Linked DNA regions of Homo sapiens: region 1 is linked to region 2. The links come from fine-mapping of genetic effects on gene expression. A gene starts in region 2. The other region holds a variant in brackets. All regions are shown on one strand. Distances are from middle to middle. Region 1 has its middle 26 kb from the start of ITCH. Region 2 holds the start of ITCH (itchy E3 ubiquitin protein ligase).

Region 1 (5,370 bases), 26 kb after region 2:
TGTGGATCACTCAAGCCCAGGAGGTCGAGGTTGCAGTGAGCCATGATCACGCTACTGCACTCCAGCCTAGGTGACAGAGTAAGACCACTTCTCAAAAATAAATAAATAGGCCGGGCGCGGTGGCTCACGCCTGTAATCCCAGCACTTTGGGAGGCTGAGGTGGGCAGATCATGAGGTCAGGAGATCGAGACCAGCCTGGCTAACACGGTGAAACCCCGTCTCTACTAAAAATTAGCCGGGCGTGGTGGCGGGCGCCTGTAGTCTCAGCTACTCTGGAGGCTGAGGCAGGAGAATGGCGCGAACTCTGGAGGCGGAGGTTGCAGTGAGCCGAGATCGCGCCATTGCACTCCAGCCTGGGCGACAGAGTGAGATTCTATCTCAAAAAGTAATAATAATAAATAATAAATAAATAAATAGGAATAAAAATAATTTATCTTAAGCTGGCCTTGGTCATAAGAAGGAGGCATTCAGTCAGGCACATATGCTAGTTACTGCTGAACCCCTGATGAAAGAGATAAAATCTGGTTAAAGTTCCCTGATTAAGCCAGGTGCTGTGGCTCACGCCTGTAATCCCAGCACTTTGGGAGGCCAAGGCGGGCGGATCACCTGAAGTCGGGAGTTCGAGACTAGTCTGACCAACATGGAGAAACCCCATCTCTACTAAAAATACAAAATTAGCCGGGCATGGTGGCACATGCCTGTAATCCCAGCTACTCCGGAGGCTGAGGCAGGAGAATTGCTTGAACCTGGGAGGCGGAGGCTGCGGTGAGCTAAGATCCCACCATTGCACTCCAGCCTGGGCAACAAGAGCAAAACTCTGTCTCAAAAAAAAAAAAAAAAAAAGTTCCCTGATTAAAAAACAAAGCTGCCAGGAGTGGTGGCTCATGCCTGTAATCCCAGCACTTTGGGAGGTCAAGGCGGGTGGATCACCTGAGATCAGAAGTTCGAGACCAGCCTGGCCAACGTGGCAAAACCCCGTCTCTACAAAAAATACAAAAATTAGCAGGATGCGGTGGCGCAAGCCTGTATTCCCAGCTACTCAGTATGCTGAGGCACGAGAATCGCTTGAACCTGGGAGGTGGAGGTTACAGTGAGCTGTGATCGTGCCACTGCACTACATACAGCCTGGGTGATAGAGGGAGACTTTGTCTCAAAAAAAAAAACCAAAACAAACAAACAAACAAAAAAAACAGAGGCCTGGCCTGGTGGTTCATGCCTGTAATCTCAGCAGTTTGGGAGGCTGAGGTGGGTGGATCACTTGAGGTCAGGAGTTCAAGACCAGCTTGGCCAAAATGGTAAAACCCTGTCTCTACTAAAAATACAAAAATTAGCCAGGCATGGTGGCGGGCGCCTGTAATCCCAGCTACTCAGGAGGCTGAGGCAGAAGAATTGCTTGAACCCGGGAGGTGGCGGTTGCAGTGAGCCAAGATCACACCACTGCACTTCAGCCTGTGCAACAGAGCGAGTCTCCATCTTGAAAACAAAAACAAAAACCACCAAAGTTGGTGTCAAGCCCAGCACAGGGCAGAGCCTGCATGTGAGAGCTAAGTGGCTTCCGCTGTGGGGAGAAGCTTCCTGGGGCAGGGCAGGGCGTTGAGCAGCACCTGAGAGTCCGGAGGCATTGACAATTTATTATTTCCATCCAATAAAGCATTCATACCTTGCTGTCTTGCTTCATTTTCTTCCCCCAACAACCCGGAAGCAAATATTCGCTATTTCTGCTTGGCAGACGAGGAGATGAGGCTCAAGGGGTTGAGTAACTTGACAAAGGACAAATCGGTAGCAGAGCTAAAATTTTTGTTTAGGTCTTTTTTTTTGAGATAGGGTCTCACTCTGTTACCCATGCTAGGGAACAGCGGCGCCATCACAGCTCACTGCAATCTCCACCTCCCGGGGTCACGTGATCCTCTAACCTCAGCCTCCTGAGTAACTGGGACTACAGGCTAGTGTATCACAGGACCAGCTAATTTTTGGTAGAGACGGGGTTTCCCCATGTTGGCCAGGCTGGTCTTGAACTCCTGACCTCAAGTGATCTGCCTGCCTCATCCTCCCCAAAGCACTGGGATTACAGGTGTGAGCCACTGTGCCCAACCCAGCAGAGCTAAAATTTAAACCTGCTTCTCAGAGATAAATTAAGGAGCAAAGGAAGCCTTTGTTGGATAGCTTCCAGAGGTTGGGAATGTCCCTGGAAAGTGCTGAGATGGAGTCAATTCTGTTGACTGGGGACTCCTAGTAGATAAGCAAGAAATTAGTTGATAAGTTCTAGT[G/C]GTGGGGATGATGAAGACTGAGCACCCGAAGGGGAATGCTTGCAGAGTGATAAATAGTCCCTACACTGCCTTCTAGGGAGATCAAGTTTCCCCATGGGGCTTCTGTCTTAGGAGGTTCTATGAAAATGTAGTCAGAGCTGAATTGCCAGGAAAATGAAGAGACTGGGGGTTGCTACTTCATCTTTCCTTTTGGCCCTTCCTCATATAGCTCTCAACCTCTCCTCTTGATTAGTGGAGACCATATAATAATACAGCAATATTGGTTCCTATCTGCTGTGCATTTGCTATGAGCCAGACTCTTCTTATTTTTATTTATTGGTTTATTTATTTTTTGAGACAGGGTCTTGTTCTGTGGCCTAGGCTGGAGTGCAGTGGTACAATCACAGCTCACTGTAGCCTCAACTTCCCAGGCTCAAGCGATCCTCCCACCTCAGCCTCCCGAGTAGCTGGGACTATAGGCGCACATCACCATGCCCAGCTAATTTTTGTATTTTTTGTAGAGACGGGGTTTCACTGTGTTGCCCAGGCTGGTCTCAAACTCCTGGGCTGAAGCGATCCACCTACCTTGGGCTACCAAAGTGTTGGGATTACAGGCGTGAGCCACTGCACCCAGCTTAGCCAGATTCTTTTCATGTATCATATGGAATCCTCATGATTATATAAAGCAAGTCCTCCCATCATCCTCATTTTAAGGAAAAGGAGGCAAAGTGTGATTGTATTCATTGTCTGTGGCTGTGTCAGGAATTACCCCAAAACTACAAAGCTTAAAACAGCAATAAACATTTATTACCTCAGGTATTTTCTATAGGCAAGGAATTCAGGAGCTGATTAGTTGAGTGATTCTCACCAGAAACATCTCATAAGTTTCAAGATGTTGACCAGGGCTGCAGTCATCTGGAAGCTGGACTGGGGTTGGAGGATACAGTTTCAAGCGGGCCCGTGCACACGGCTGGCAAAGCAGTTGGCTGTTGGCAAGCAGTCTCAGTTACTTCTTGCTGTGTGTGTCCCTGCATTGGGCTGTGCTTATAACATAGCATATAACATTGAGTGTGCTTATAACATAGCAGCTAAGTTCCCTTAGGGCAAGTGATCCAAGAGAGCAAGATGGAAGCTGCAGTCTCTTTGTTTTTTTGTTTGGTTTTGTTTTTGAGACGGAGTCTCGCTCTGTTGCCCAGGCTGGAGTGCAATGGTGCGATCTTGGCTCACTACAATCTCTGCCTCCCAAGTTCAAGCAATTCTCCTGCCTCAGCCTCCTGAGTAGCTGGGGTTACAGGCACGTGCCACCACCCCCGGTTAATTTTTGTATTTTTAATAGAGACGGGGTTTCACCATGTTGGTCAGGGTGGTCTCGAACTCCTGACCTCGTGATCTGCCTGCCTTGGCCTCCCAAAGTGCTGGGATTGCAGGCATGAGCCACTGCGCCTGGCTGTTTTTATTTTTTGAGACAGGTTCTTGCTCTATTGCCCAGGCTGGAATGCAGTGGTGTCATCTCAGCTCACTGCAACCTTGACTTCCTGGGCTCAGGCGATTCTCTCACCTCAGCCTCCCAAGTAGGTTGAGACCACAGGTGCTAATTTTCTTTTCTCTTTTTAGTAGAGGTGAGGTCTCGTTTTATGGCTATGTTGCCTGGGCTGATCTCAATCTCCTGGACTCCAGTGATCCTCCCACCTTAGCCTCCCAAAGTGCTAGGATTACAGGCATGAGACACTGTGCCCAGCCTTGCATTGTCTTTTCTGACCTGGCCTCAGAAGTCACACCTGTTTCTGCAGTAGCCTGGTGGTTATGTAGGAAGAGAGAATCATTGAGGGCCATCTTGGAGGCCACTACCACGATGATAAGTAATTTGCCCAAGGTCACATACATGGGAAGCGTTAGAGGTGAGCTTTGAAGCCAGGAAGTTACTATGTCACAGTAAATATTAGTTTGAAGGAGTAGGGGCAGGCATGTACCCACAGGTCTCCTCTATCCTGGAGGCATTCATGCTTGAGATCCTGAGCTTCTCATTCCAATGGGCAGGTGAGTCAGACACTATCTGATGTGTCAGACAGACATTTTGTACAAGCAACATAATTTGACATTTTCTTTCTTTTTTTTTTTTGAGTAGGAGTCTCTCTCTGTCACGCAGGCTGGAGCGCAGTGGCGTGATCTTAGCTCACTGCAACCTCTGCCTCCCAGGTTCAAGCGATTCTCCTGCCTCAGCCTCCCGAGTAGCTGGGATTATAGGCATGTACCACCACGCTGGCTAATTTTTGTATTTTTAGTAGAGACAGGGTTTCACTATGTTGGCCAGCCTGGTCTCAAACTCCTGACCTCAAATGATCCACCCACCTTGGCCTCCCAAAGTGCTGGGATTATAGGCGTGAGCCACTGCGCCCAGCCAATTTGGGCATTTTTAAAAGACAGAAACAAACAAACAACAAAAAACAGCAAAAGATCGCACAGACTTGCACTTAATGGTAGACATGCTGAATTAAAGGGAACCTGACTGTGGCTCCAGCTTTGCCACTGACTTACTGAAGGACCTTAGGCAAGCTCCAGCCCCCTTTGGGGCCTTTGTTTTCCCATCTGTACAATGGAGCAGTTTGATTCCATGGACACTGAGGTCCTCTGGCTGGGTGATTCTGGGATTCTACGTAGAGAGCTGTTCACGGAGAAAGCCCAGGGAGTTCTTTCTCCACTTTCCCTGGCTTCATCTGTCCTTTGCTGAAGGGGAGCGGACCCCTCAGGTGCAAGGGGCACTCTTCTGGACCCAGGCCAGACCCAGCCAGGCTGTTCAGCCTTGTTTCACCCGAAGCTGGCTGGCACCATTGTTCCCCCATAAAGCTGGGCCCCTTTCCAGCTGCTACTGAACTCAGGGCAGGGGAGAGGCTCAAAGGACTCAGTTGTGTGGATTTCCTCCCTCCCCCAGGGCAGGCCTGGGTCACCCAACAGGCTGATTCAGCCCTTACAGAGGAACAAAAGAGATGAGATATGGTTTAGGGACAGAATTTGACATTTACCATTTTCCCTCATAAAACTTAAAAGTAATCATCTTGGGGAAATCCCCTTATGTTTATTTATTTTACAGTTCAGGGACATTTTAAAAAATTGGGGCAAGGGCATT
Region 2 (5,370 bases):
TACTTAAAATTTTTAGCCAGAGCACAGTAGCTTACACCTGTAATCCCAACACTTTAGGAGGCCAAGGTGGGAGGACCACTTGAACACAGGAGTTAAGACCAGACTGGGCAACGTAAAGAGAACCTTTCTCTACAAAAAAATTTTAAAAATTAGCCAGGCATGCTAATGCATGCCTGTTGTCCCAGCTACTCAGGGAGGCTGGGGTGGGAAGATCACTTGAGCTCTGGAGGTCCTGTCACTGCACTCCATCCTGCGTGACTGGGTGAGACCCAGTCTCAACAACAAAAAATCACTTTTCATATACTTGCTTCCTTTAACCTTTCTGACCTTGCGTTTCAAAATGCTCTCCTTCCCCATTCCACTCCACACTCCCTGAACCCTTTTTGTTCCATAATCCTCTGAATTTACACACAGCATTAAGGCATTCACTCAGCCTACCCTGTCCTTCTCTTTCCCCGCCCTTTTCACACTCCTACTCTTCATGTAAGACCCAATGTGGGTTCAGGGGCAAATCTTGCCTCTTCTAACCAATCCTCCACCCAGCCACACACACAGAATTGGCCACTTCCTCTTTCGTCTCAAAGCTTTTTGACCTTTCCTTGGTAAGTCTACAGTACCATTTGCCCTCAGTGGTTCCCAAGACCATCAGAATTACCTAAGGCATGTGTTAAAAATAAATTGGTTGAAGCCAACCCAGACCTACTAAATCCATCTCAGAAGGTAAGACCCTGGAATTTCTAAGCTCTCCTAATTATTCTAATGGTCAAATTTGGGGACTACTGGTTTGTCTGCCTCTCCCAATAAGTGAAAAGATGTATTTTTTAGGGCCAGGAGTGGCGGCTCATGCCTGTAAACCCAGCACTTTGGGAGGCCAAGGCAGGTGGATCACGAGGTCAGGAGTTCGAGAGCAGCCTAGCCAATATGGTGAAAACCCATCTCTACTAAAAAATACAAAAAAATTACCGGGAGTGGTGGCACGCGCCTGTAGTCCCAGCTACTACGGAGGCTGAGGCAGAAGAATTGCTGGAACCCGGGAGGCGGAGGTTACAGTAAGCCGAGATCACACCACTGTACTCCAGCCTGGGTGACAAAGTTAGATTCCGTCTCAAACAAACGAAAAAGATGTATTTTTTTCTAAAGAATGTAGAAATGTTTGATTCTAGAATACACTGAAGAAGTAGTCTGTACTCATTTTTTTAATTTCATATGATATCCTTGGTGACTTGACCTGTATGCTGAATGTAATGGAATTCCTTTTGGACTCACAAAACTTAAATTCACAGTTCAAAGAAGCAGTAGAATTTCCACCTTCATTTCTAAATTTTTTTTTTTATTTTTTGAGACAGGGTCTCACTCTGTCACCCAGGCTGGAATGCAGTGGCAACGGTAACAGCTCACCGCAGCCTCGACCCCCCGGAATCAGGTGATTCCCCCACCTCAGCCTCCTGAGTATCTGGGACCACAGGCGCCTGCCACCACACCCGGCAAATCTTTGTATTTTTTGTAGAGACGGGGTTTCACGATGTTGCCCAGGCTGATCTCCAATTCCTGGGCTCACGTAATCCGCCCACCTCGGCCTCCCAAATTGCTGGGATTACAGGCGTGAGCCACCACACCCATCCCATTGCTTTTTTTTTTTTTTTTTTTTTGAGGCGGAGTCTCGCTCTGTCGCCCAGGCTGGAGTGCAGCAGCGAGATCTCGGCTCACTGCAGCCTCCACCTCCCGGGTTCAAGCCATTCTCCTGCCTCAGCCTCCCTAGTAGCTGGGACTACAGGCGCGCGCCACCACGCCCAGGATTTTTTTTTTTTTTTTTTTGTATTTTTAGTAGAGACGGGGTTTCACCATGTTGGTCAGGATGGTCTCGAACTCCTGACCTCATGATCTGCCCGCCTCGGCCTCCCAAAGTGCTAGGATTACAGGCGTGAGCCACACACAGCACCCGGCCCATTTCTTAATTTTAAAAATAAATCGTAGCTTAAATAAACCTGTAAATACACATAGCAAGCTCTCAGCAGATCTGCCATGAGAACTTCACCTCAACTGATAAACCATTCCTTAGCCGATTTTGAGAATGGAAATACACTGCCTTTACATACTTCCTGAAGATCGAATTCTATCAGGAAAAGATGCAGGAGAACCCACCTAAGTGGGTGGCTGGCTCCAGGGTCTTACTAATTTTCAAGGCAAAAATCCCACAATTCCCCATCCCCCACTCCAAACCAAGTATACTGTAGCTGTGGAAGAATGGCAGAAAATGTAATAAGATTAGGATACGAATACAACCAAGAAAACAAGGTTGCGTTGTTATTGGGGATAATGAATTCCTGGCCCTTTACAAGTTCACCTGGTTACATGTCCAACTAACTTTAGGCCCAGCGTCTACTTCGGGCGCACAAATTCTGCGATTCTCTTTTCTGTCGCGGACGGGAACTGTCTTGGAAAACTTGAGTTCTCCACTTAAAAGTCATGTCATCATGCTTCGACCCTTAGAATACGTTCAACGGCTACTTTTTTCTTTTCTCTGCTAAAGAAAAGGGCACTCTCCGGAGGAAGGGCAGTGACAGCTCCACGTCTGCAAAAGTCGGCGCCGCCACGACGGTGGCGGACGTCGGGGAGGGCGCCGGAGCCGGGACCACCACGCCGGGGGGACAATGGAAGGAGGAGGCGAGTGGGAGAGAGAAGGGGAGGCAGCCGCTGTGCTGGGCCCTTCTAGCGACTGGGGGCTCGGAAAAGTCTCGAGAAGGCCAGCTGGGTGGCGGGGGACCCGGCCGCCGCCCCTCACAGGGCCACGTCGCCCGCGCCGGCCCCGCCGCCGGGCCCCGCGCGTAGGCCGAACCGCTGGAGAGTGGCCCCAGGCGGGGCTGAGGGGCGAGGGGCCGGACGGTACCCACGCCCGTCGTGGCCCAGCCCTTTCACAACTTGGAGCCCGCGAGGCGAAGGCCTCCGGAAGCCTGTGCCAGACACTGATCCCTCCGAACGTCCAGACAGCCCACCCCCACCGCCCGGCCCGGGCCAGTAGCCCGAGCTCCCCGCGCCCCCGACAGACACCGGCTCTGGAAGAAGGAGCAGCCGCGGCTCTGGGGTCCCGAACCGCGCGTCCCACTCCTCTACCCTTGTTCTCCCCGAACATTCTCATCCGGACTCCCTCCCTCTCCCGAGAACTGCCCCGAGTTCGCCCACGGGGGTTTACCGGGACTCGGGGCGGCGGCGACTCCTCAGTCCCTAGACTAAGATGGCAGCCGGTCCCGAGCCCCGACCACAGCTACTAGAGCGAGTTAGCAGCTAAAGCGCAGGCGCCTGAGCGCGGAAGTGGTCTAGACTACAAGCCCCAGCAGGCCTTGCGCGCCAGCCGTCCGGCCCGCCCCTGGCTTGAAGAGCTGGCTGCGGTGGTAAATCAGTTAAATCCCAGTTTTCCTCAGCTCCAGGTGAGATGGGCGCGAGCGGCTCCCAGCACCTCCAGGCTTTTTTTTTTTTTTAACACCCCGCCCACCAGAGCCTATAAGGACTGTGATTCTCAAACTATGGTGTGCATCAGAATCACCTAGAGAGCTTATTAAAACTTACACTGCTGACCCCCACCCCCAGAGTTTCTGATCAGAAGATCTGGCATAGGAGGATAGGGTCTGATAATTTGCATGTCCAACAAGCTGTCTAGTGATACTGCTAGTGAGTGAAATCATAATTTGAGAACCAATGGGCTATATAGCTTAGTTTATAACTTAGTTGTTCTTTTTTCTTTTTCTTTTCCTTTTCTTTTTTTTTCTTCTTTTTGAGATAAGGTCTCACCCTTCACCCAGGCTGGAGTGCAGTGGTGCAGTCATAGCTCACTACAGCCTCACACTCCTGGGCTCAAGCGAGCCTCCCACCTGGGCTTCCTGAGTAGCTGGGACAGCAGTTGAGCACCACCACACCCGACTAATTTTGTTCTATTCTTTGTAGAGATGGGGATGGGGTGGAGTGCGGATGGGATGGGGCGGGAATAGGGCCACGGTGTCGCCATGTTGCCCAGGCTGGTCTCCAGCTCCTGGGCTCAAGCGATACTCCCTCCTCGGGCCTCCCAATCGCTGAGATTACAGATGTGAGCCACTGCACCTGGCCTGGCTTAGCCTTTAACAATGTACATTAAAGGGCGTGGTTAAAAAGAAAATAAAAGAAAAAAAATGTACACTTGAGAGTTACACTGACCGGATTCAAATCCTCCCTTTTCTACCTTTTAACTGGGTGCCCTTAGGGATGATGACAACAGCTTAGTGGAGCCAACGTGGCCTGTCCGGTATTCTAAGAGCTGATACCAAGCTCCCTTTATTCTCACAACAAACCTATTACAGAAATACCATTATTATCCCCATTTTACAAATATATAAACTAAGTCACATACTTGATAAGAACCCAGGCAGTCTGGCGTGAAAGTCCGTTGTCTTAACCTTCTTCATGGATTGCTTGTGAGAAATAATAGGCTATGCAGGCAGAGACTCAGAGGTATGACTAAGTGCTCAATACTTAGTGACCTTTGCTATTACTGTTTAGCCTGTTTCCTCCTAATGAAAATAGTATTTTGCCATCTGGAAAGTCACATTTTTCAAAGTGACTTTTTTTTTTTTTTTTTTTTTGAGACAGAGTCTTGCTCTGTCACCCAACCTGGAGTGCAGCGGTGCAATCATAGCTCACTGCAGCCAACCTCCTGGGCTCAAGTGATCCTCTCACCTCAGCTTCCTGAGTAGCTGGGACTCCAGGCTCAAGCCACCACACTATCCTAATTGTTTTTATTTTTGTAGAGACGTGGACTCCCTGTGTTGCCCAGGCTGTTCTCAGACTCCTAGGCTTGGCTAGGGTCAGTGGCTTACACCTGTAATCCCAGGAGTTAGGGAGGCCAAGGCAGGCAAATCACTTGAGGTCAGGAGTTTGAGACCAGTCTGGCCAACATGGTGAAACCCCGTCTCTTTTTTTTTTTTTTTTTTTTTTTGAGACAGAGTATTGCTCTGTCGCCCAGGCTGGAGTGCAGTGGCGCAATCTTGGCTCACTGCAACCTCCGCTCGCCTCCTGGGTTCAAGTGATTCTCCTGTCTCAGCCTCCTAAGTAGCTGGGACTACAAGCGCATGCCATCACGCCTGGCTAATTTTTGTATTTTTAGTAGAGTTGGGTGAGCCACCACGCCTAGCCTTGTGAAACCCCTTCCCTACTAAAAACACAAAAATTAGCCAGGTGTGGTGGCGGGTGCCTGTAATCCCAGCTACTTGGGAGGCTGAAGCACGATAATTGATTGAACCCAGGAGGGGGAGGTTGCAGTGACCCAAGATCACGCCATTGCACTCCAGCCTGGGCGACTCAGCGAGACTCTGTCTCAAAAAACAAACAACAAAAGAAACATAA

The links.
Region 1: its variant is fine-mapped to the expression of ITCH in whole blood (TOPMed, PIP 0.91).

What each region holds. Positions count from the first base shown.
Region 1 is chr20:34,334,717-34,340,086 of GRCh38, reverse strand. No RefSeq gene overlaps it. Among named protein-coding and RNA genes, the nearest start is that of ITCH, 26 kb to the left of the region's middle. RefSeq lists enhancers at 1,618-1,667, 1,718-1,827. The variant G/C (reference allele first, on the strand shown) is at 2,268.
Region 2 is chr20:34,361,170-34,366,539 of GRCh38, reverse strand. ITCH (itchy E3 ubiquitin protein ligase) reads right to left here and starts at 3,267. Exons shown (of 25, transcript NM_031483.7): 1 at 3,191-3,267. RefSeq lists a silencer at 2,733-2,962.